3 separate regions of the Homo sapiens genome follow, and regions 1 and 3 are each linked to region 2. Evidence: fine-mapped expression QTL. A gene starts in region 2. Each other region holds a variant in brackets. All regions are shown on one strand. Distances are between the middles of the regions. Region 1 overlaps VAV2 (vav guanine nucleotide exchange factor 2). Region 2 holds the start of VAV2 (vav guanine nucleotide exchange factor 2). Region 3 overlaps VAV2 (vav guanine nucleotide exchange factor 2).

Evidence for each region. PIP is the estimated chance that this variant, and not a neighbour inherited with it, causes the effect.
Region 1: its variant is fine-mapped to the expression of VAV2 in whole blood (TOPMed, PIP above 0.99). The same link has a PIP of 0.9 or more in blood mononuclear cells and monocytes.
Region 3: its variant is fine-mapped to the expression of VAV2 in monocytes (Quach 2016, PIP 0.95).

The regions. Positions count from the first base shown.
Region 1 is chr9:133,782,058-133,790,057 of GRCh38, forward strand. It overlaps VAV2 (vav guanine nucleotide exchange factor 2), which reads right to left. Exons shown (of 30, transcript NM_001134398.2): 14 at 7,201-7,286; 15 at 6,297-6,429; 16 at 5,189-5,203; 17 at 3,719-3,828; 18 at 2,260-2,361; 19 at 1,446-1,534. Among named protein-coding and RNA genes, the nearest start is that of SARDH, 48 kb to the left of the region's middle. RefSeq lists enhancers at 4,212-4,621, 4,893-5,445 and a silencer at 5,732-5,891. The variant G/A (reference allele first, on the strand shown) is at 4,450.
Region 2 is chr9:133,988,203-133,998,026 of GRCh38, forward strand. It overlaps VAV2 (vav guanine nucleotide exchange factor 2), which reads right to left and starts at 4,122. Exons shown (of 30, transcript NM_001134398.2): 1 at 3,873-4,122. The coding sequence starts at 4,076. RefSeq lists enhancers at 253-980, 981-1,708, 1,709-2,436, 2,437-3,164, 3,165-3,892 and 2 more and silencers at 3,275-3,714, 3,755-3,844, 4,115-4,264, 4,325-4,424, 4,525-4,834 and 1 more.
Region 3 is chr9:133,876,006-133,884,005 of GRCh38, forward strand. The region is part of intron 2 of VAV2 (vav guanine nucleotide exchange factor 2); the gene reads right to left. Among named protein-coding and RNA genes, the nearest start is that of VAV2, 110 kb to the right of the region's middle. RefSeq lists enhancers at 1-663, 664-1,397, 6,538-7,271. The variant A/G (reference allele first, on the strand shown) is at 3,649.

The sequences.
Region 1 (8,000 bases), 210 kb before region 2:
TTTTCCAAATTTTCTACGGAAAATCAGTAATTAATAATCCGGCGGGGGCGGGGCGGGGGAGGAACAGAAAGATTACAAAAAAAGAAAACTTGGAAGGAAATATACCGAAACATTGCCTTTCATCATTTCTAGGTAAGTTCACGGGTGATACTTTCTTTAAAATTTCATTTCTTTTTTTTTCCTCCAAATTTTTGATAAGTAAACATTACCTTTAGAATCAGAGAAAGCAAAAAAAGATTCTAAGTAGCTGCAGCCATCGTCTGGGGACATGCGACCACGAGAGGGCAGTATTGATGGGCACAGCTGAAAAGCTGCGTTCAGGCCACAGGCTGCCTGCGGAATCCTCCAGCACTAACTCCAGGGGCTGCGGGATCCTGTGCACAGCTAGGGGGCTGCATTGGGCCTGTGATGGGGACAAGGGGGTCTGGGCTGACCTTCTGGCCCTCTCCCCAGGTTAGGGTACTGGGCTGGCACTCACAGTAAATGGTGAATTAACCATTGATCTAAAATCACAGCTCAAAATGTATTCTGGGCAATGGCGTCTCTGGGTGACAATCTCTGGGTGACAAGCTGGCCTGACTTGTTTTTCTGCCTTAAGACACCTTCAGGAGGCTCAAGGAGACAAGACCCAGAGACTCGGCCTGGGGCCACCGGGGGCTCTTTGTTGAATAGAAGCTCTGCTAATAAGTGTAGACAAATTGCTGAAAGTTTCAAGCCTCAGTTTCTGGGGCTGATGATGGAGGTGACATCCTGATGTCTGAAACCTCTCAGGAGAGAACTGTCTCAGGCTTTGCACTGCTGTCCAGCTGCCCTGAGCAGGGCACAACCCCAAAGGTATGCCCCCGACCCAAGGTGCTTCAGAGGAGCCTCCAGGGCGCATCCCTGCCTCTGCCCACTGCCAGCCTGGCTCAATCCTCTCCCCTCCCTGAGCCTCAAGCTTCCCTAAATGGGCATGAACAGAAGGGAACCACTGTAAGTGCCATGTGTGTATGCGTGCATGTGTGTGTGTGTCTGAACCATTTACTAACATGGCTATAGCTACTGATGGCCAGGCCTCACCCGCCGGGAGAACCCAGGGTGACCGGTGTTTCTGTGATGAGAAACCTCCATGCACCTGTTGAGAATGTTCTGTGCCGTGTTTGGGGGTGGAGATTCTAGAAGCTTCCTCCTGGAGTGGGGCAGGGGATGCAGGAGATGGGGAGGGGTCCTCAAGTACCCATTAGGAGAGAGGGCTTGGAATGGAATTCATCCCGGCTGTGTCTCCTGTTAAGTGTGTGACGTGCGGCAGGCGTCTGGTGTCTGCTCTGGGGCACGTGAGCACTGGTGCCCTCATCTGGTCGCTGCCCCGTGGGAGATGGTGCCCGAGGCCCGTACCCAGGTGGTAGGGGGCAGAAGTGAGCAGGCGTGGCCAGGGACTGGGGTGGGGGGGTGAGGGGGGTACTCACTGAACTTGCAGGGAGGTATCACTTCCAGGCACTCCTTGTGTGCCCCGACGCCACACTTGGTACACATGTATCCCTGGTAGAAGGTGCCCCTGCACAGGGGAGGGCAGGAGGTGAGGTCGAGGCTGGGGTCGGCTCCTCATGCCTCTCTGCCAAGGTCAAGGCCCTTGTCCCCACCCAGGCTCACCTGGCTGGCTGTCTCCCAGCACACACATCCCTCATAGCCCTGAGTATCCAGGACCCTCCCTTACCAGGCAGCCTGACACCTGCTTTCCCCTACCTCCACCAGCCTGCCTCCCTGCCCCACACAGCATCCCGGGCACCCAGGAACAATCACCTCCCGGCTAGATCTGAAACTCTAAGGGCTTGGCTGGGCCGTTTTTTTTTTTTTTTTTTTTGGAGACAGGGTCTCACTCTGTCACCCAGGCTGGAGTGCAGTGGCGACATCACAGCTCACTGGAGGCTCAATCTCCAGGACTTATTCAATTCTCCCACATCAGCCTCCCGAGTAGCTGGGGCCACAGGAGCAGGCCAACACGCCTGGCTGACTTTGGTATTTTTTGTACAGACAGAGTTTTGCCACGTTGCCAGGCTGGTCCTGAACTACTGGGCTCAAGCGATTCGCCTGCCTCAGCCTCCCAAAGTGCTGAGACTTGAGCCACCATGCCTGGCACGGGCCTGACTCTTGTGGGGTATACTCCCTTAACCCCTCAGGGCCTCCCACAGGGAACATGGGACAGATAGAACACTAAGCTCTCTCAGGGGCCTGGGCTGGGCGTGGAGCGAGGTGAGGGCTGTAGCAGGGGGTTTCCCACACCTGAGGAACATTTTGCAGGCTTTGCAGTTGGTGGTCTTGTCAAACGTGTACATCTGGAAACTGTGGTGGTTGGCATTGGCTTTGTCTGGCTTGATGTTTGACCTGGCAGGAGGGAAAGAGAGCAGATGCTACACCCACTGGATTCCCCGAGCCCCACCATGTGGCCATCCTGGGAACCAGCTGGGCTCCGGACCCAGGCTGTGCAGAATCCGAGAGGGCCTGGACTCCAAGCCTGGCTCTGCCCGCAACATGGGGCAGACTCAGGGCCCAGACTCCCTGCTCGTAGAAGGCAGGTCAGAGAAGAAGCTTTAACACTGCTGCACTGGCCTGAGAGAACCTTCCAGGTGGGGACGGTGGTCTAAGGTCCTGACTGGGCTTGGATGTGGGCAGGTGTGGGTATTTGTTAAAACTCAGAAAACATATACTTAAGATTTGTTTGCCTCATTGGATATAAGCTTGAAATTTCAGAAGCTAAACAAATATTGGGCCCCCTGAGGTACTCAGGGGGGCTGCACTGGTGTGCAATTCACTTTGACACAGACCCGCTGTTGGATGGCTGGGGTGGGGTGGGGTGACGCGGATGGCGGCAGCGTGGTGAGAAGACGGCTATTCACCATCACGTCGCTTCAGCTTCCATGAACGCTTGAACTTTTGCACAATAGGATGTTGGGGAGAAAATTACAGGCCATGGAAAGCGAGTGGCCGAAGAGAAGATGCCCCAGGCCTCCCCCACAGAGCCTGGGTGCAAACCAGCTGGCTGCATCTATTCTCACGAGCCAGGCCCTGGCCCTGCTGTGTCCAATGGTTCCCTTTCGATCCTCCCAAAAAGGCCAGAACACAGGCCTTCCCCTCTCCATTTCACCAGAAGAAACGGTCAGAGAGGCGAGTGCACCTGCCTGCAGGCCCCAGCTCACCTGCCCGCAGAGCTCAAGCACAGACAACCCTGCTGGCCCTCCAGGGTCCGTGTTCCGGGAACCCGTTCATCATCTTTCTCTGTTTCACATATCTAGGATATGAGTCCTCTTGGATCTCATGGAAAAATAGTTCTGTGGCTTCAAAAACAGGTGACAAGCCGCCAGCCCGTAAGACCCTGAAGACTGGGGTCACCAGGAATCCTCTGGCATCATGGCCACTCCCAGCCGGTCACTGCTCTGTGGGCCGGGCGTGCCAGGCTCAGCCTCAAGGGTGGGATGGCTCATTCCAGCAGGACAGCGGAGCCTGCCTGGGACAGGCTGTGGCAGAGGGAGAGCCCTCTCACTCTGGACTGATTGTTAAAGAGGATGTCACTGCTTGAGGCTGGCGTCCCAGGGGTGATGGAGGTTGTCTGTGTCCCTGACGTTCCAACTTTGCCTCCCACCGCCCCTGGTCTGAGAGGAACCACAGACACAATCCACCTGGGCTTCCACCCCCCATACAACTCATCTGCCAGGGACCTGGGGGCTGCCGCCCTGGAACTCACATGGCCATCTCAAACTGCTCCATCCACTTCCTCTTCATATCTTCTGTTTTGCAGAAAAACTGGAAGCCCTGCTTTCCTTGAAGGTGAATTAGGTAGAAGCCGTAGGACCACTGCAGGGGGGAGAGGGGCCATGCTTGCAATAGACACGGCTTCAGACATCCTGGCACATGTCCACGTGTACTCTCGCCTGTGCAGCATGTGCACGTGTGTATATGCATATGTGCACAGGTGCCTGTGCCTGTGTGAACACATGTTCTCACGTGTGTACCTGCTCTCTTGCCCATGCTGTACGTGCACACGTGCCTCTGTATGCATGCATGTATAGCTGTGTGCCCATACCCTCACGTGAGAATACATATGCGCTTGTGCCTTCACCTCTGCATGCATACTAGTGTGCTCCTGCGTGCATGGGTGTGCATCTGTGCCTGCACGCGTGTCTATGCGTGTGCACCTGTGCATGAGTGTGCCCAGTGCTCCTGTGAGCATGTGCACACACACACTTGTATCTGTCCCTGCAGGTACACACATGTACTAACACGTATGATGCACATGCACCCATGCTGTGTGAGCTCTCCTGTGGGTGCTCTCCTGTGTGTGCTCTCCTGTGGGTGCTCTCCTGTGGGTGCACACACACATGCCTGGGCAGGTCTGCACTCCTGCCTGCGCCCATGTGCGAGGATGCTCCACCGAGTGCATATGTAGATGCATGTTAAGCGGGGGCAGGATCCCAG[G/A]AAGGATGAGCGCAGGGCCCCACCCAGGGCCCCTCCACGAGGCCTGACCACCCACTTTCACTTCCTAAATGTGATGCTAAAAAAACCTCACTTCTCTGAAGTAGAACAGTAACAACAAAAAGGCAGGGAACAGCCATGGGCCTGGGGCACCCCCCGTGAAGCCATCCCCGACTGAGCAACCCACAACTGCCCCCTTCCCTGCCTCCCCTTCGGCCACCCCACAGGCCTCGCCATCTCTCCGAGCTCTCGGACAAAGGGCTTTCAAAGTGGTCCAGAAAAAAGAGTTTGGCAAATAGGAGCCTACTGGGTTAGAAAAGATGGCGGGAAAGAGGAACGAAGGGAGGGATGGAGAGGGGAAGCGTGGAGCGGGGATGGGAGGAGGAAAGAAACAAGGAAAGAGAGAGGAAAAGGGGAGAAAGAGGGAGGGAGGAGGGAGAGAACACAGAAAAACAAAAAGGATGATGGAGAGCTGAAGAGAGACCAAGAAACCCCAGCCTCTGACCCCGAGCTCCAGGGACTGAGGATCACGGAGTTTTCCTTTCACACTGTCTTAGCGGGCAAGCCTTTCATCATGAATACAAATCATTTCATCATCGGGAAAGGGAGTGGAGGACGAAGGACCAAGAAAACCCTGAGCCCAGCCCCTCAGGCCCCTGGGTCCCCTGGCTCCGGGCAGAAGTGCCAGCACCAGGCTGGGATGATTGAGGCAGGTGGGAGGACCTGGGCGCTAGGTGCTTACCATTTTCCCGTGAGACTAGGAAGCATGGAGAGGAGAGGAAGGGGAAGACGGTCAGTGAGAGGCTAAGCCCGGCCCTGTGGTGGGTGCCGCAGTGTGGAGGCGCCAGGAGCCCTGGCAGGTGGAACACCCCCCAGTGCCCAGGCTGGGGGTGGGGTGATCAGTGGGGAAAGGAATTTCTTCCCAGAGTGTTGGGTGCTGGTGGCAGGACTGCCTCATGGGCCCCAGTTACTTGTTTTGGGCATGAGGGCAGGGAGGGTCACCCTCAACAGCTCATCCAGTCTGCACTTGCTGGGTCTGGACGAGGGCTACACTGCCAGCCCTGGAGGCCAGGGACTGGACTTTCAGAACAAGGGCTCCTGACCCCCGCCCCCCACCCCACCAGGGCTGCACACGGTAGCTGCTCAAGTGCCATGGGCAGAAGCCTCAGCTGAAGCAGGACTGAACCAGACAGCCAGCCAGCAATAGCCCTATAGCCATGGTCCTGCCCCACAGCAGCTTCGGCCCCGTCCCTGTAGCCCTGGCCCCACCCGCTGGCAGCCACAGGCCCACCTCTGCAGTCCTGGCCCCGCCCCAGCAGCCACAGGCCCCACCCCTGCAGCCCTGGCCCCACCCCAGCAGCCACAGGCCCCAGCCAGCTACATGTAGAGTCTCGGACAAGCCACAGCCAGACCTACCCACAGCCCTCCTCCAAGCACCGCAGGGTGGGACGGGAGAGGAAAGCCTGCTTGCTACAAGGGACAACATGGGCTAGAGTCAGGCTGGCCAGATGGAAAGCCAAGGTTGAAAGTCCCACCCTCACTAGAGGCCTTGGGGTGGCCTCTCCCCTCTGCCTCAGTCGCCTCACTGGGGAGTGGGATTCTGGTCTTGCCCACCTTTCTGGGGGGCGCTGGGCCCGGCGAGGAGCAGGCCTGCTATGAGCAGTGGTCACGACGGCGAGGCAGTGACTCAGAGAGGAGCCTTCCTGCAGAGCGGAGACGCCCACCCCAACCCACCCGGCCAGCATCAGCGGCTGACTTCGAGTCCCCTTCCCCTGGGGTCTGGAACCCAGTGCCTCTCTCCAGGCCACCCCCACGTTCCTGGGTAGCAGGGGGGACCCGGAAGGCCCCACCTTCTTGACGTCCTTGTTGTTCATGGGGTCGTCGGTCATCTTGTGGAACAGCAGCTCGATGATCTCCTTGAGCTCGTAGCTGTAGCCCTTCCGCTTGCAGACGATGACCACCTTGTCAAACAGGAACAAGTACCTGGGCCAGGCAGCGCAGCGGGGGATCAGCACCCCAGCACTGTGTGCTCTGCTCCGAGGAGGCGGCAGGAGCTGAGCCTGAGGCTCTGGCACGCGGCTCCCTCTCCGGGCGAGCCCTGCCCTCACCTGGCTCACCAGGCTAATGCTGAGCCTCGGTCAGGTCTCGGCTGTTCCCACACTGCTTCTCCAGGAAGCCTTCCTTGGCTCCCTACCCCCGTGACTGAGGCTGTGCCAGGAGCCCTTCAAGGGGCTCCTGCATCCCCCACGCTGGCCTCCCATGCAGCACTGACCCCCGACGGCTACTCCCAGTTGATCCCGCGCTGGACTGGGAGCCTCAAGAGGGTGGGACCCAGATCTGCTGTGACCCCTGCCCCAGCACACAGTAGGTGCACAAGGAGGGCCCTGGACAAGCCTGGGCCACCGTGCGCCTGGACACTCTCCGGCAGTCATTTGGCAAAGAGCCCATCCGACCACTCTGGGCCTGTCTTGGGTTCCTGGAGGCTGAGCATTGGCAGTGAGGGGCCTGGCCCTCATCTTTGGCTGCCCCAGCCCAGCCTGGTGCCCGCCACAGGCACAAAAGCCCCACTGCTGTGGCGCCCGCTCGCTGACGAGAAGGAAGGAAGCAATTAAAACTGAACAACACAAAGCCACCGCCAGGCAGCTCTTTCCACAGGAAGGCCTGGCTTCCAGAGCCACTTAGGAGTGGCTCCCTGGGAGGGAGAGCCAGACCCTGGCGGGACGCCACCCAGCCCACAACACGCGCCCTGCTCACCTGTCCTGCTTGGTGTGGTTGACTATGGACCGGACTTTCAGTTCCCCGTCAATCTTTGGTCTTCCAAATTCCTCCAGTTTCACTTGCTGGGAAGAAGGAGAGGGGCCGTCAGCCGGGGCTGGAGCAGCCCCAGTTCTCCTGACCGCACGGGCAGGGCAGACTGTCGTGCACCCAAGGGAACTCCCCACAGGCAGCAGAGGCGGGACGAAGGGAAACAGCCCCTGTGGCTCCCAGCTGGTGCTCAGGATGGACGAGGGAGGGTGCAGAAGACCGGGAAGGGACTGGGCCTGGCAGCTTCTCTCCCTTTCCTGGCCAGCCCTGCCAAGGGGCTCCCTTCAGCTCTGGGGACAAAGGGCGATTGACGGTGCCGGTTGTGTTCACAGAGGCCGCCGCTGTGTGGAGCCCCAAGCGGGACCCGGTCGGAAAAGCCAGAAGCCCAAGCCCCACGTTCAGGAGAGAACAAACAGCGCCTATCTGCTGCAGGGCGGGTGGGGCCGGGGTCCTGCCAAGGGTGAGGCTTCGACTCAGACCCCTGTGTGGTTCGCTGAGGTTCATTTTCGTTGTCTGTCTGGTTTTGTCTCTGTGACTCTTCTGATTCAGAGAGAGCTTCTCTTGACATGTTCCCTGCGTGGCTTTCAAAGTGTCCACACAGACAGGAAAAGGTGGAGGAAAATGCTTCAAGACACGAACAGGGCCCTGCCTGGGAGGTGCTCGAGGCACAGGCTCAGTGTCTCCTTCCAAGGTCTCAGCCCCAGAGGCTGCAAGGACAGCTTTGGTGTCACATAGTCCCAGTCAACTTG
Region 2 (9,824 bases):
TCACCAGCCAGGGATCACAGGCACCCACCCCCCACCCCTGCCACCCCATGAAAAGAGACACACACCGTGACAACCCAAAACCCAAGAATGAGGCCAGGGACATCCCTCAGAAAGTCCACAAGAGAGTAAGCCAGCTTAGGAAGGCCTGCAGTCATCATTTATTTAAACAGTCCTGGGAGGGAGACTGCAATCCCTATGTTGGTTTTGCCACTTACTCCTCTGGGCAGGAGTGGTGGGGTGATGGGGAGTCACTCAAGCTCTCCGGAACCTTGACGGCCTCACCTATTAAACACAGGCAGCAACCCCCACCTAGGCTTGTGCTTAGGCCACAGCAGGGCAGGTAAGAAAGGGCAGATGTGATTTTTCTATGACCCAACCACCAAGGGTGGAGATGACTTCTTCCCTCTCCCATCCCCACCCCTTAAGAAACGTGAGTTTCAGCCGGACGCGGGGGCTCACGTCTGTAATCCCAGCACTTTGGGAGGCTGAGGCGAGCAGATCATGAGGTCAGGAGTTCGAGACCACCCTGGCCAACATAGTGAAACCCCGTCTCTACTAAAAATACAAAAAAGAGCTGGGTGTGGGTGGGGCACTGTGGCTCACGCCTGTAATCCCACCACTTTGGGAGGCCGAGGCGGGCAGATCACAAGGTCAGGAGTTTGAGATCAGCCTGGCCAACATAGTGAAACGCCGCCTCTACTAAAAATACAAAAAATAGCTGGGCGTGGGCCAGGCACGGTGGCTCAAGCCTGTAATCCCAACACTTAGGGAGGCCTAGGCGGGTGGATCACAAGGACAGGAGTTCGAGCCCAGCCTGGCCAACACGGTAAAACCCCGTCTCTACTAAAAATATAGGCTGGGTGCAGTGGCTCACGCCTGCAATCCCAACACTTTGGGAGGCCGAGGTGGGTGGATCACCTGAGGTCAGGAGTTCAAGACCAGCCTGACCAACATAGAGAAACCCCGTCTCTACTAAAAATACAAAATTAGCTGGGCATGGTGGCGCATGCCTGTCATCCCAGCCGACTTGGGAGGCTGACGCAGGAGAATCGCTTGAACCCGGGAGGTGGATGTTGTGGTGAGCTGAGATAGCGCCATTGCACTCCAGCCTGGGCAACAAGAGCAAAACTCCATCTCAAAAAAAAAAAAAAACAAAAAATACAAAAAATTAGCCGGGCATGGTGGCAGGCGCCTGTAATCCCAGCTACTCGGGAGGATGAGGCAGGAGAATTGCTTGAACCCAGGAAGTGGAGGTTGCAGTGAGCCGGGACCGTGCCACCGCACTCCAGCCTGGGCAATAGAGCGAGACTCTATCTCAAAAAAAAAAAAAAAAAAAGCTGGGCGTGGTGGAGCGTGCCGGTAGTCCCAGCTACTCAGGAGGCTGAGGCAGCAGAATCGCCTGAACCCAGGAGGTGGAGGTTGCAGTGAGCTGAGATTGCGCCACCGCACTCCAGCCTGGGCGACAGAGCAAGACTCCATCTCCAAAAAGAAAAAAAAAAGTGAGTTTCCCAGAAAACAAACACCAGCCACACAGAGAAACGAAGTCTTTCTCCCAACCCCTGTGTGCAGCCAGATGCAGTAAAGTGGTTTCTCCACGTTGAATGAACAGGCGGGGCTGTCACAGCCAATGTGAGGGTTAAGGGAGCATCTGCAGCCGTCCCCGTGCAGGCAACAGCCGTACAAAGGTGGCCCACCCTCCACGGGACAGAGGAGTGGATGGCAAGATCAGCCTCAGCGACACAGGGCACTACGTGCCACAGTCCAGGTGACGGTCATTTCCTGGGCACTGTGCGAAGGGTGTGCCTTCTGTGCCTGCCCTTAGCAAATCCTCACAGCATGGCTACGAGGGGACTGCTATGACTGTTCTCATGACAGAGATGGGGAAACTGAGGCTCTGGAGGTCGTTGCCTACCTGGGAGGGGACAGTGCCAGGATTCAATCAGAGCGGAGAGCCACACAGACACACACCCATCTGGTCCTCCTACCATCCAGGCCCCTACACGCCCTCCACGAGTCCGGCAGCAGGGCCCCTAAACACCCCTCTACCGGCCCAGCAGCGGGACCCCTAGACACCCGTCCACCCCCCAGCAGCAGGGCTCAAGGGGCCTCTGTCAGGGTTCGTATTGCTGCCTGGCCAATGGCTCCAGAGACCCCAGGAAGTCTCTGGCTTGAACTTCCAGTGCAGGAGCTGAGCCAAGCCACCTGCCACAGCCACGGCCCCCTCCTCTTCCCATCTTCCCAAACCACAGCTGGGGAGGGGCAGCCCCCGGACCCAGCGAGTCCACCAGGCAAGGCTGGGCTCCTCCCAAGCCTCCTCTGTGCGGACCCAGCTGCCCTGCCTCTGCCCTGAGCCCCAGCCTGCAAGCAGCAGGGAATCCTGCCCGAGCAAGTCAGCCTGGGCAGCCCCTGGAACTCATATCAAAGGCAGCCACCTTGGTTCGAGGCCCAGCCCTGCTCCCCAACAGCTACCCTTCTCCTCAGTTTCTCCAGCCATAAAATGGAGTCCAGACTTCCCAGTCCCCGTGGGGCTCTGAGAACAGATCCGGGGAAGCCCTCTGCAGCAGTGACCGCCACCCCCGCCACCTGCACCTGACCACTGACATCCTGCGGGAAGAGGCGCTGGCTCCCAGGGAGGCCTCTGAGGGCTCCTGCTAAGCCGGTCCAGGCAGTGCTGGGTAATCATTACCCAGTGGGAAGGCGGCCCCTTCCCCTCTGGGCTTGCCTTTGTCAGCGCCCCCCAACCCGGCAGAGAAAGGCCCGGTCTCCTAGGAAACGCAGTCACCGCCAAAGGGCAGAGGCCTCGCTGCCCAGCCTGGAATCGCTGGTGACTCACTCTCCCTCCTTCCCAGGAACCACGTCCTAAGTCCCACTGGTGAATGGTCCCTCTCCACATGGAGTTGCCACTGCGCGCGGTGAGGGGCTGCTGAGCTGGCTGGAAGACCGCACCTCCTCGGCGCTGGGTGGACCCGGCTGCCACCCGCTCTGCCTCCCCCGACCTCTTCTAAGCTGCTCCCGGTAAGGATTCCGCGACCCCCGGAGAACAGGACGGAAGCCTCGATTCTCTCAAGTCTTAGCCAAGTTCCCTCTTAAGAGGCCAAGAAAAGCAGCTTCGTTCGGCTGGGCAGGCATTTTCCTGCCTGGCCCTGCGGCCGCACGCGTGCCTCCGCCGCGACAAAGGCCACACTCAGCGCCCGAAGGAGGGGTGGGGGTGTTGGGAAAGCGATGGGGGCCAGGACTGGGGCCAAGTGGCCCTGGGGATCCTCGAGGCGGCTCGACCCGGGAGCCAGGACTGGCGCCAAGTGGCCCGGGTCCGGGTCCGGGAAGAGGCGGAGGCCGGCGAGGGGGCGGTGCCCGGGGCCAACCCAGCTCCCTCCGGCCCCGAGGGCTCCCGCCCCGCGCCCCTCCCGGGCCCTCCAGCCGCGCCCCGGGCCGGCGCAGCGACCGCGCCCGCTCTTCCACCGGCGTCCGGCCAGGAGGCGCGAGGCCCAAGGATGCGACCCACGACGCGCACACCCGGCTCGGCAGGCTCCCTGGGAAATGAGGGGCCACTCGCAGGGCCCCGCAGAGCGAGCGCAGCGCCGGAGCCTCCCCCATCCCAGGCCGCGCAGACCGCGGAACCGGCGCACCAGAGCAGTGCCCGCGGGCGGCGGCGGCGCGACCCAGGCTGAGGGGACTTTGGCCAACTTCGCGCCTCCTGAGGTCGCGTCTCGGAGGCCCGGGGCGCACCCTCCAGCCGCCCGCCCGCGTCCCGGAGCCCGGCCGCCCCAGCCAGGGCGCCTGGGCCGCCGCCGCTGCGACCTCCGCGTTCAGTCCGCGCGTCGGGCAGCGCGAACGCCGCCTCCCCGGGGCCCTCCCGCCCGCCGGGCGCTCACCTGGGACATCTGCGGCCGGAAGTTGATGTCCTTGAGGTCGATGGAGCCGGGGGAGAGGTTGTGCAGCAGCTGGCACAGAAGGACCCCGTCGCGCAGCGCCTGCGCCAGGTCGAAGACCACGGCCGAGGGCCACACCACCCGGTGGTTGGGCGGCAGGACCTTGCAATCGATGAGCCAGCGGCCGCACTGCCGCCACTGCTCCATGGCGCCCGCGGGCCCGACCGGCTCAGGGCAGTGCTCGAGCCAAAGTGCAGCGGCCGCGGGGCATCCCGCCCGCGCGCGCGCGGGGCTCAGGGCCGGGGCGGGGCTTCGCGCGGGCTGCCCCAGGTCCCCCGCTGCGCCGCCGTGCGTCCCCTCCTCTTCCTCCTCCTACTCCTCGGGCTCCTCTCGGGCCGCCGCTCCCGCCCACGTGCGGCCGCGGGGCGGGCAACGGGCAGCGCGCCGGATCTCCCCGCTTCACACACGCAAGTGCCTGCGGGCCCCGGGCCGGGCTCCACGCAGCCAGTCGCCGCAGCGCTCCCCAATCCGCGCCGCCGGGCGCCGCATTCTGCGCTCGGGGCGCCCCGCGGCCGCCGCGGCTCCTGCCCCGCCCGAGACAAAGGCCCGGCGGGGTCGCTCGCTCCGCGCGTCCCGGGCCTGGGCCGCCCGCGTCGCCGCCGCTTTGTTCGCCCCACCCGCAGTCCCCACGCCCGGCGCTGCGACTCGACGACTCGGCGGCTCGGCGGCTCCACGGCTCCGGGGCGCTGGGGGCGCAGGGGGCGCGGCCACGGCCGGGCGGGGCAGGGGCGGGGCCGGAGCACTCGCCTGGCACCTCCCCGTGTCCCAAGCGCCGCCCCCGCCCCCCCACTTCCTGCCCCGCTACCGCCCGCGAAAGTTGCGGTGGGCGGGGGTTGCGGCGCAGGCCCAGGTCCGGCCGACTTTCTCCAAGGGCGCTCGGACTTTGGGGAGCCCTTCTCCCTGGGGGAGCGACCTCGCCCGTGGAGTGATGGCCGGGCGTCCCCCCGGGTGCCTTTGGTCCTCCGTGGAGGTCAGGAGGTGGTCCCTGTCGCGCTGGGCGCCCTCGCATGGCCGTTCGGTAACGACAGACTCGGGAGAGGGCACCGGGCTGGGCCGAAGCTTACTGAGCCCCCTTGGCCCATCAAGCCGCCCCGGCGGGATACCCGAGGCTGAGGCTGAAGGCACACGGGCCCAGGACTCCCAGAGCCCTCTTCCTGTCCTCCGCCCTGGCCGGGGGCCCATAGGAAGACCCCCGACCCTGCATAAAGGCCAGGATTCCCCAGCTTTTGGCCAAAGTCCTGGCCACTCGCAGCTGCCCAGCGGGCAGTTCCTGGCGTCCAGGGCGGAATGCGTGACATGAGTGAGGGCAGGAAGGTGCTCTCCGGCCCAGGGTCGCAGCCGGCCCCGGTGCTGATCCGCCCTGATCTCCCTTCTAGGCCACACCCTGGGTGGTGGGGGCGCGGTCTGTCCAGCTGGCAACGTGTGACGGTAGGAGGGGCTTCAAGGACAAACAGATTCTGCAACTGAAATTATATGGATCCTGGCTCAGCTGCCGGGAACCGCGGGTTTTCACTGCTGATTCACTGGGGGACACCAGGCAAGTCCAAGCCCTTCTCTGAGACTGGCTCAGCCCGGAGGCTGGGGTGCGGTGTCTGAGGGCTCCCACCCTGGACTCCGGTGGAATCCTGGGCCTGTATGAGCTGGGGCTGCACTGCAGCCCCCGGACCCCTTACCCCGTGGCTTCCCTGCGCAGGGGCCGGAACGGGGATGCGAGCGCAGAGAGGGTCCCCTGGGCCCAGGGCCTCCGATGGGGGTCCTGTCCTGGAAATTGGTCTCTGCAGAGTCAGACTCACCCCTTCTCCACTGAGGTGGAAGCAGGGGGTCCCAGCTTAGGGTCTGGCCCGTAGAGAGAGGTCAGGAAGGAGCTGGCCCCTGCAGCAGTAAACTCAGGCCAGGTGGCTGGTGAGGCGGGGGCTCAGGTCTCTTGCCCTTCCCCGAGGAAGCAGCAGTGGGCACCTTTAGGGCAAGGGGGAGAGCTTTCCTCACCGAAGCAAGATGGGGCAGCAGGTGGACCCATCAGCATCTCCCTAAGAAATCAGAAAGCCAGGAGTGAAACCTGAGCGGGGCCCTCCAGCCCCATCTGAGAGCCTACACTGATCCCTCCTCCTGCAAAGCCTCATCCCCTCCTCTCTAGAGCGGGGAGACCCGGCTCCCACTGGACTTGCTTGTGAAGAATGGACGGATAAATTACCCAGAGGCTTCCCACTGTGCTGGGACAGAAAGGGCTCAGAGAGGAAGAAGAGCTACCCACTCTCCCAACCCCTCGCCTGGACCGCCGGCGCATTGATGCACTAAATGTCTCTTTCCCCAGGTGGCTCCCTCAGCAAGAAGGGGGCCTCTGTCCTCACGGTCCTGGGCCTGCCTGCTCTGGCCAAGAGGACCAGCCAGGTCTGGGACCCAGGCAGCCGCCCGCCAACAATGCCATGGGTACCTGCTGCCCCCTGGTGGTGCTGTCACCACGGGGCACCTGGCTGCACCCAGGAGGGGCTGCACAGAAAATCTGGGGTTGACCGTTGAGAAGACCCAACTCAGGAGACACAGACTTCACCACAGTGGCCCTGAGCCACTCAGGCCTCCCTGGTTCCCAGGTCCTGATCGGCATAGGACATTCACCGGCCCTGTGCACCTCCCAGAATCCTTGGAGGCTCTGAGGGCAGGATGGATGTGAATCAAAGAACAAAAGTTTGGTGGGGCCAGGTACAGCAGCTCAAGCCTGTAGTCCCAGCACTTTGGGAGGCTCAGGCAGGCAGATGGCTTGAGTCCAGGAGTTCAAGACCAGCCTGGGCAACACAGTGGGTCCCTGTCTCAAAAATAAAATAAAAGGTAAAGAAAATGGGGCAGGAGCTCCCTTTGTAACCTTTAGTGTGAGTGTAATGATGAACAGGTTGAGACTGTGGACTCAAGGCACATGCCAGGAAGACTAATAGAGAGGACGCTGTTTGGGAAAATCCTACCACCATCCATGTCCACTTGGACTCAGGGCTGTCTGCCAGGACTGCCTGCTGCACACCTCCAGGGGGCGAGAGTCCCATCACACCTTGGAGATGGGCTCCAGGGGGAGCTGCTTACACAGACTGCCAGTGAGCAGCTGCCAGTCCAGCCGAGCAGATTAAACCAGGGAGCAAGAAGTGCCAGCATGGGCCACATACCCCAAGTATGGGGGAGGGTCACAGGTGGCGGAGGAGGGCACCAGGCAGGGCACACCCGGGGAGGGAGCAGCAAGGCTTCCAGGAGAAACTGAGGTTTGAGTTGACAACCAGAGATTGATCATGGTTGCAGTGACTAGGAGAGGGTGACATGGAGGATGGAGAGCTTGGACAGGAGTTGATTTTTAAACCACAAAGGAATTCAGTGTTGCCATGATCTCAGGCATTGAACAATAAACCGCAGTGTCCTCCTGAGCTCCTGTCTCATTCTCCCCGGCAGCCATGTGGGCAGCGAGTCCCAGCAGTCCACCTTCCTGTTCTGTCCAGCATCTGCCCCCTCCTGGCCCACCCCCACCAAGCCCCAGGCCCCCTCTCCTTGGACCCGCTTCCACCCTTCCACCTGTCCTCCGCAGCCAGCAAGGACCCAGTCGGCCCTCAGTGACACCCTGTCTCTCTTCTGCGCGGATGGGCACCTCGGGGCTCCCGCCTCACTGGAGGTAAAATCTAGCAAATCACTGTAATTGTAATTTTTAAATCCAATATATTCTTTCATGGAAGCCACAGATGCGTTAAACTGATCCAAAGACAGCTTATAAAAGGCAATGTAATCGGAGGCTGGACGTGGTGGCTCATGCCTGTAATCCCAGCACTTTGGGAGGCTGAGGCGGGTGGATCCCTTGAGTCCAGGAGTTCAAGACCAGCCTAGGCAACAAGGTGAAACGCTGTCTCCACCAAAATACAAAAATTAGCCTGGCATGGTGGTGCACGCCTATAGTCCCAGCTACTTGGGAGGCTGAGGTGGGAGGATCACTTGAGCCCAGGAGGCAGAGGTTGCATCGAGTCGAGATCGTACCACTGCACTCCAGCCTGGGTGACAAAGTGAGACCCCATCTCAAAAAAAATAAAAAATAAAAGGCAATATAATCTTATTTATTGACTTGTGGCATATTTTAACACTATCGCTATGTGAATTAACGTTACACTACGTAAGATTGCAGTTACGTCGCACATTGTCACTTTCAAGCCGTTATATTTTAACAGCATTCATAGTTGCAGTAACCAATCCTGTGTCTTGAGTCTGAGTGGCCGGCCTAGGTGATGGTCACCTCCTTTAAACCACAAGCCACTCCATCACTTCTAGTCACTGTTATTGTACTGAGTGGTCCAACATAAAAACCAGCTCACCAAGCACATTGGTGAGCTGCCCAAGGTCACCCAGCAACACAGGAAAAAGCCAAGTCCAAACGCCAGGCCTTATTGACACCTGTGTGCACCCCTAAATAGAGGCTGCTGCTGAAAGGGCTTTCCACGCCTAGAACTTTCTGCTTTCCCTTAATGCACTGATGTGGGTGGGGAGGTGACGAGGGAGGGAAAATGATCTGATGTCTAGAACACGTGGATACGGAGTCAGCAACAGAGCGCAGTGCCTGGAGCCCACAGGCACACCCCCCCGCCCCGCCACTGTGGTACCGAAATGAGCCCTTAGTACAGGCAGGAGTAGCAAGGCTAAGAAACGGGAGCCGAAGGGTCCGACACTGACTTAAAGGAGGGAAGGGCAGCTGGAAGTATATCCACGCATCCTGGAGGTCCTGGAAACCTGGTGACTCTTGGATCCTCGGGGTCCCAGAGAGGAGACCTTTGGAGGAAGGAGTGGGTAGACAGGTGGCTGCCCTTATGTGGGCAGCATGGCTGGGCTTCCCCTCTGGCTTCTCTGCCCAGTCACTCACACCACGAGTGATGCTCCACCTACAACTCAGCACGTCCTTCCTGCACCCAGGCCCTGAGCCAGGACCACCCACACCCTAGGAGGCGAGGACTGTCATCGTACTGTGCTACAGATGAGGTCGGCTCACATAGCTTGAGTGACTTGGCCAAGGTTATGCAACTGGCAGAGTTCAGATTCGAACTCAGGTCCACCTTCTCCTATGCCTCCAGCTGAGAGGTTTGCTTTTGTTTTCTACTGATAAATAATGATTTCAAGGGCAGTGGCACAGGACAATCTGAGTCCACGACCGGCCCAGCGCCCCTCCCCTGGGTTTCTGCAGAGCTGCCCTCATCAAATTGGTGTCCTCATTCTCTGGGCAGCCCCAGGGTCTGGTTTCTGAACAGGAATACATGTGTCCCTTAGCGCGTTACATGCCACAGTGGAAGGGCTTGAGAGTTTACCTCTCACTCAAGACTGTTTCTTTCCATACAGGCCCTCCCAGAGAACCTCCATACAGCCAGAGTGGGCACTGTCTCAGTCCAGTATTCCCCCAAAAAACACCAAGACCTGCTGCAAGGTCTCAGTACTTTTCATCAAAAGGTCCAAGGCTCAGGGGACCCTCATTCCACAGCCAGCATCCCAGGGATAGACTGAAGCTTCTTCAAAGGAGCTCCGCCCAAGGCTGGAGTCTGTCCATCATCCCTCCACCTGCCCCTCCATCCATCCCTCCTATATCTTGCTACCCACTCTTCCATCCATCCGTCTCTCAACCCATCCTTCCATCCATGCCACATTCCTCCACTCATCCCTCCATCCATCCCTCCTTCCATCCATCCCTCCCACATTCCTCCACCCATCCCTCCATCCATCCCTCTCACATTCCTCCACCCATCCCACATCCCTCCACCCATCCCTCCCTCCATCCATCCCACATCCCTCCACCCATCCCTCCCTCCATCCATCCCTCCCTCCATCCCTCCATCCATCCCTCCCTCCATCCATCTCTCCCTCCATCCATCCCACATCCCTCCACCCATCCCTCCA
Region 3 (8,000 bases), 110 kb before region 2:
CCCTCGGACATCGACGCTCGTCGTTCTCAGGCCTTTGGGCTCAGACTGGGACTCACGCCATCAGGCCCCTTGGGTCTTGGGCCTTCGGATCAGGACTGGAGCTGCACTACCAGCCTTCCTGACCTCCAGCTTCACAGCAGCTGGTTTCAGGACTTCTCAGCCCCCAGGATCGTGTGAGCCAGTCCCTGGTATTAAATCTTCCTATCTATCCATATGCTATCAGCGCTGCTGTTCTGGAGAACCCTGACTAATACAATATTGGAAAGGAGCATGCATCTCCCCTGGGATGGCCCCATTCAGGCACGCCCTGCTCCCACGCCCAGCACCACTGACCGCTGCCAGCAGAGGCGCTGTGGAGACAAGAGTGGTAGGGGGCAAGGGACGGGGTGGGTGTGGAGCAAAGACTATTCCCCTAAGGAAGGCAGGCCCCCTGGGACTGAGGGAGAGCAGCCAGTCAGCCAAGGCCAGGAGAACGTGCAGGGGCAGAGCCCACGCACAGGCCCGGAGAGCGGCCATGGCCACACAGGGGACCAAAGAGCGGAGGCCTGTCGGACACAGGGCCAAGGAGCTGGCCTCGCCTGGGGCAGTGGGAGTGCAGGGTCAGGCTGGTGTTTGAGAGATGCTTCAGGCTGCAAAGAGGATACTGGGTGGAGGGAAGGCAGGACCGCGGGAGGGGGGCGGCCCCAAGGAGTCTTCTAACCAGGCCAGGTGCACGATGGCAGGAAGGCCTGGGCAGGAGGCCACAGGGATGGACACAGCCAGAGAGGACACAGCCAGAACTGTTTAAAAGGCTGATCAAGGCTGCCTGGGTGCAGGGGTGAGGCAGGGAAGAGAGAAACCATCTCTGTCCTTTCTGCCAGGAGACACAGAAAGGGCTGGCCTGAAGAACGGGGACAATGGGGGAGGCTGGCCACCGGGGTCTGGACGCACAGTGGCCAGCTACAGAGGGGAAGGCAGGGGATGCCAGGGCTGGCGTCTGGGCAAGGCTGAGCTTAAACCCTTGGTGTGGCCTTCAGCAAGTCGCTGCCTGCCCCGAGTCTCCCTCCCCACCCACCTGGGGAAAGGGGAGGCTGAGAGGCACGTGGTTATCTGAGCCACCACCACCCCATTTCTGTTTCCCACAGAACCCCCGCCCGGCCTGCTAGACCCCCTTCTGCCACCTTCCTCTGGCCTCGGGATGCCCTGGCTGTACGAGGAGAGGCTCCCTCCGCCCTCAAACAGTTGCCAGCGCCTTTCTTCCCCAGCAGGTAACTGGCACACTCCACACTCTGCACAACGATGCCAAGATGCAGCCCACAAAGCTGGGACCCACACCCCAGACACACAGCAATCCACTGGCCAGGCGGACAAGCCCAAAATCAGCCACTGCCCACAAGCAGGGTGGGACCATCACACTGCCAGGAACCTTCTTGGAAGAGCCAGTGCTTGTGTTCTGGGTGACACGTTCGGCTCTGGGCTCAAAAGTTACCCCACTGCCTCCATGAATCCTCAACCACCCAATGAGGTCAATGTTACTATGCCCCTTGTCAAATGATGAAACTGAGGGTCAGAGTGGTCACCTGCACACATCAGCTAGATGGTCTGATGCAAGCTCTTAAAGGGAAAGCACCCAGAAGGAAAGGCCTCAGCCTCCCGACTGAGCCTCACCCCAGAACCCCCCTCTCATGGCCTGGTCATCCACTGCACGTTCCCAGTCTGCTAATGGGGACAGGTGACAGTAGCCATCACCTGGAGGGGCTGATGGGTTTCCAGTGGCTTCACTGGCCTCCCTAATTAATGGCCATTTTAATGGGAAGGGGACTAATAACTGTATCTCTAACACTACGGCAATAACTTTCCAGTGTCTACCCTTATCTCTGAAGCGATGACTTAGTAACTCGGTTATTAAGTGCAAGCGTTAACACAGGACAGGAAGGTGCGTGAATCTCCTCTGCGACGTCAACTCCACACCTGCTCCTGCTCTGAACTCCCGCAGGAGTGCCTGGAAGGGCCTGGGAAAGCACTTGGCCCCCCGACACCCCCCACTATTTCTCCCCTAGGCTGTCTGACGGTGAAGGAGGGTGTGGGGCCCACCCAGGCCCTTAGGCTCAGCAGGCGAAGTCTCTTTGCCAGTCTCAGCGTAGGGCTGAGCTCAGCACTCTCCGCCGGCCTGCGTCTCACAGATGCTCCGGGTGTACCACGGGGCAGGCACCTCTGCTGACATGTGGCAGCCAGGGGAGGCTCAGAGGCCAGGGACAGGTTGCTGGCACCTCTGCGGCCGTAGGAGCCACACAAGGAAGGCCTCACACGAACCACACGCACTACAGAGCCAACTGCGACCCAAGCACGATCGAGGCTGTGTGTTTCTGAAAGGATCTGACCGAACTGAGCACTAAGATTGTTCAGAATCTGGCCAACGCAGCTCCCCATCCATCCCCAGCCAGGTGGCCCATGGTGAGTGAGGCAGAGTCTTGGTTTCCTCAGCTGTGAGATGGGGGCAGCGGCACCCGCAAGAGTAAGGGAGACAACACACTGCCCACGGCTGCCCCGCTGCAGTCACCATCATCGTTGCTGCCCCTCCTGCAGATGCAAGCCCCCACCTCCACCACCGCCAAGTCCTCTGTGCATGTCTGTCACAGGACAGAGCTTAACCTTTGAGAGGCCATCCCTGCTGACCCCACCTGCCGCCCGTCTCAGGAGGAGGATTCCCAGGAAGTCACAACCGCAGGGGGATCCCCCAAGCAGTGGCCACGTCCCCGCCACCCACACCAGGGGGTCCCGATCCAGCCAGTGGGTTTCCAATGGGTGTGCAAAGCTGTGGGCAGTGGGGGCAGGGGCCAGGGACAGCAGCTGAGCACTCGGAGTGGAAGCGCCCTCGGCCCGGGCAGCCTGGCCTCCTTTGCACATATGCCAGGCTCCTCCGCAGGGGCAGAAACCTTTTCCCCAGGGTCGGGTCGCCCCATTCGAGAGATCAACAAATCCAGCCTTTGACTCCATGGAGCAGGAGCATGGTGGGGCAGGGGCAGGGAGGTGTCTCCTCAGGATCCCCCCGTTCCCCAGGCATCATCCGCCCCCATCCCAGGCATCCTGTGACATAGTCTTCCAGAGGGGACCGGGCCGGGCTTGTGCTGCTGAACCTGGCTCTGGACCCCGTCTCAGCTGCAGACTCGCAGCAGTGCCGGAGCTCTCTGCGCCCCAGGCCCTCCTCTGTAACGAGGCCCTCTGGGGGCTCTTGCTTCCTCACTCAGGTGTGCAATACACTTTGAGCAGCTGCTGCGTACCAAGCACTGTGCTAGGGTGACCTCTGGAGCTCCAAGGAACCAGCAGGGTGTGATCAATGCCGCAGGGTAAAGAACAGAGCAGCTGGGAAGCAGGGGAGTCCAGCAGAGTCCCTAATCAAGCAAAGCAAGGGGCAGGAGATGTCCAGGAATCAGAGAAGGCCCTCTGGAGGGGCTGCTGTCACCTTGAGGCCTGCAGGATGGACAAGTGTGTGTCAGAGGCTCACCATAAATGTGGGCAAGCCTCCTATAAGAAGGCATCGATCAGTAGGTGGCCCCGGGGCACTGCCACAGCCTTGAGCACCTGACATTACAGACCCACAGGGCAACCAAGTGCACATCTGAGTCCTCTGCCAAATGCAAATCTAAGCAACAAGCCGCACACACCAGG[A/G]CGAACAGCACTGCTGGCTCAGATGAACCACCAAGAACCTGCTCTCCCTTCCAAAGCAGAACCTATCCGAGAATCCCTACCGCCTTGCGAGCTGCAAGTCCGATCTGTGCAATGTGAGCCCCTGCAGGAAAAAAGTCTAAAGTGATTTTTCCTCCCCGGTGCTTTGTGTTTATGGAAACAGATGGAAACCGGCCGCAGACGAAGCTCTGGCATCCAGATTTGCTTCCAAGCGGTTTTACCTTGATGACTGCTTAATCCTGGCCCATCAAGGGACTTCCCAAAATGGCCACTTTATGGATTTTTCTTTTCCTGTCTAAGGGTAGGATTCAAAAATGCACTTTTCCCAGAAAAGATTTTCTAAACCATGAGAGTGAGGACACGGATAAGGACAAGGCCATCTGGAAGTAGAGGAGAAAGAAGAGACGCTGCATGGGGAAGACAGGCCAAGGAAGGACCCACCTGGACCCACCTGCGCCGTCTGCAGGAAGAGGGGCTAGGCATCCCTCCACCAGCCCCTTGCCCACTTGGCACTCACGAGCAGCCCTGGACACCAGGGTACAAGGTGTGTCCCCAAGAAGCTCTGTGTGCCCCACCGGAGGAAAGAGCCGGCAGGCAGCACGGGGAGGGAGAGTGGGCAGGAAGCAGCTGAGCTGAGAGGGAGCCTCTGAACCAGGCAGGTGGTGAGGGACCTGTCAGCCAGGCTCAGGGACTCATGAGATGATAAAGGCGGGCAGGGAAGGACAATGGCCTTAGGGGCAGCCATGGGGAACTCCCAGGTCAGAAAAGGCTGGATCTGACCGATGGTTTTATAAAAGATGCCTTTTACACGAAGCACCAGGGACAGCTTCTCCAGTAGGAATCTTGTATATGAAGAAGGGGTGGGTGCGGGGGGCACTGCCAATGCCACCGCCCAGGGGACCAAGAGATGGCCAAGTGAATGTGATGTGCAGTCCCTGATGGGTCTTGGGACAGAGGACATAAAGGGGAAACTGAGGAAGCCAGAGTCACTTCAGTTAGTGACAATGTGTCCACACTGGTTCATTCATTGTAACCAAAGCACCAACTACTGTGAGGTATGGATGGGGGACCCGGGTGTGGAATACAATCTTCTTTTGCACTAGCTTCTCAATTTTGCTAAGTCTAAAACTGCTCTAAAATATCTAGGTAAAGCAGGGGCTGCCCCTTTGGCAGGTCAGGTGGGCAGCAGGTCAGCTTCTGCGGTCGGCCCTCCAGGACACTGGCCGTGGCTCAGGATGGAGGCAGGTGAACTGCAAGGATCCCTGGGCATGAGCCTAGGTGCTGCCTTCGGTGGCTACAGCACAGTCCCCCCACTGTCAGGTGCTCCCGGGGGCAGCAACACCCCCCTCCATACAGGGGCAGGTTCAGCAAGGGGCCAGCAGCCCAGAGCTGGGGGCCATGGCCCACCCACGTCCCAGAGAGGCTGGGCAGGGAGAGAGGCCCTGCTGGCACAGGGCCCGAGGTGGTGGAGCTAGGACTGGCCTTCAGGCTGCTGGGCTTCCCACCATACGACCCGGAGAACTTGTCCCCAGAAAAGCTGCCTTGGAGCCATGGGCTCCAGACACAGAGAGATGCGGCCTTCCCGCAGGCATGATGCTATCTGCAGATAGCGGAGCGCAGACGTGGGACAAGGCCCTCTGGAATGTGTCTGGACTTGCCCCACAAGGTTCCTCCCAGTGAGACGGGGCTTGTGAACAGGACTGAGAAGGAGGAGCGCCCAGCTCTCCTGCATCCCATCAGGGGCCTGGGTGACAGGAGGGGAGGCCCTGCATGAAGGCTGCAAAGGAGTCTCCAAGGCAAGCTCTGACGGATTCCCAGGCAGCTCGAGCCTCCAGCAGAGGCAGCAGGTGGAGACGAGGAACTGACGAGGAACACAGTCCACAGCTGGGAACACAAGGAAGGGGGAAGGTGCAGAGAAAGGCCTGAGATCCATGGTGGGCCTGGCAGCCAGCCACTGGAAACCGCCGAGGTCCCAGACGTCCTTGAGGGTGGCCTACAAGTGGCCGGGAACTTTGAGAGGCCCTCTCATGTGTCTGATACCAAATGTATAATTTAATATTCTATATTTTCAGCCCAGACAGGAATTAATTATTTAATGTCCTATCAAAACCAACTCCATCCTTCATACTACTCCAGGCAGCGTGTGGGGGCGGAAGAGTTCAGTGGCCCCGGCTGGCATCACGGCAACACTGGGGAGGGCGCAGATCAGACACGCAGCAAGTACGTGCTGAGAACCTGCCAGGGCGCCTGGCACAGGATCCCAGCATGACGCCTCCTGCTTGCCAGGTGCCCAGCGAGTGTGCGGGGCTACAAAGGAGGGCGTCAAGGTTTCAACCTAGTCTCCACTGACTCTCCAGAAGGTTCCTCTCCCAAGAGATACAGTGCCGAAAACAAAAGAGGCAAGAGGCAGCCATCCCCAGATAGCTGTGTGGCAGGCCCCAGGCTGTACGGGACACAGTGGACAGACAGGCCCAGCCATGCCCTGCAGAGCTCTCGGAGATTCCAGGGCAGGAAGCAGACTGTCAATAAACAGAAAGCAAGGCAAAGAACATGCTGGGTCCAGACTGAACCCTGCAGTGAAGCAGGTGAAGCACGCAGGCCGCCAAGGGCACAGACCCTGTCCGCTCAGCCTTCACAGCCCCAAAGGGGCGGCCCTGCTGTGCCTGGCCCGAACATGCTGCCGTCACAGCCAGCCGACATCTGTACGGGGCTGGAGAGCATCCCCTACGGTTCATGTCCTTCCTGGAACCTCAGAATGCCACCTTCTTTGGAAATAGGATCACAGCGGATGTCATGAGTGACGATGAGGTCACCCTGGAGTAAGGTGGGCCCTTAATCCACTGTGACCAGGGCCCTCAAAAGAAGAGAAAAGACATAGGGAGAAAGGGGAGGCCATGTGAAGTCAGATCCCCACCCCCGCGACCTCTGGAAGGAGCGTGGCCCTGCCGACAACACCTTGAGTTTGGAATTCTGGCCTCCAGGAGAGGGCAGAATAAATCCCCCTTGTTTTGCGGCACCAGGTCCGTGATACTTGGCTATGGCAGAGAGTGGACGCCAGAAAAAGGATAAATGTCACAAACACAGCGCTCAGCCCTTCAGAGCAGACAGACTCAGGGATACAAATGTCATAAGGTGACCCCTGGGGCCCCTGAACCCCTGCAGCAGAGGCAGCCAGCCACTGAGACAGGACCCCCAGGGAGCAGGGGGCGACAGCTGAGAGGCCCAGGAGGACAAGAGGGACTCTGCCATGCCAAGAAGTCAGGGACGGTGTGCTGTGACTGCAGGGACAGGGGTTCCACCTTCCCCAGAGGCCTCTGGCACCCTGGGTTCGGGATGTGGGCCCCACACCCACCCCATGCCAGGCTTGGCCCCCTAATGGCCCTCTTTCCCAGGGAACAACCTCCCCAGGCTCCATCCCTATGTCCCCACCCCCTGCTGCTCTCTCTGGATCCTTCCCTCCTAATTGGCATGGAAAGTCAAGTCCCTGAGCCTGCAAAAGACTCGGCTGTCCCCACACACCACTCCTGGAGCAGATGGGCCCTTCATCATTTGCTCATTTCACGTTCCCCTAATCATGCGAAGAGCCCTGGTAATTGACAACGATTCTCTGCACAAATGGCGGACCCACAGAGGAGCGAAGGCGCAGAGACCCATCCGTTGAGACAGCCTCCCTGCCGGGGTGTGCCAAGTGAGTGTGGGGCTGACGGGTGTGAGCCACAGTGGGCAGTCAGGGCCAGGGAGAGGAACAGAGCCGAGTCAGCTGCTGACCTGCTGCAGCAGCTCAGCCACTTAAAAATTCGTCGGAACATGTTGAAACAATGAGGGGATAGAACAACCACTCACCCTGCAGACTCCCAAGTCATCCCCAGCCACGGCAGGCAGACAGCCCAGCAGAGACTCCCAAGTCATCCCCAGCCACGGCAGGCAGGCGGCCCAGCAGCAGGCAGGTTTCAGCTCGGCCGGAGCAGGCCCTCAGGCACTGGACCTGGGGAGGCTTCCGGTCACCTGTGCAATGCCACCAGCAGCTTCTTGCATGCTTCCCATGACAGGGAGCTCACTACCCAAGGTGGCGGACGAGAAGCCCTCCCGGGATCCAGTGCCACTGTGAGGCTCAAGTACACCCCAAAACTCACACTTGAGGTCCACAGGTGACTAGCAACTTTGCTTAAATTGATTCTAGTAGGCCCGGTGTGGTGGCTTATACCTGTAATCCCAGCACTTTGGGAGGCTGAGGCAGGCAGATCACAAGGTCAGGAGATCAAGACCATCTTGATCAATATGGTGAAACCCCGTCTCTACTAAAATACAAAAAAATTAGCTGGGCACGGTGGCGC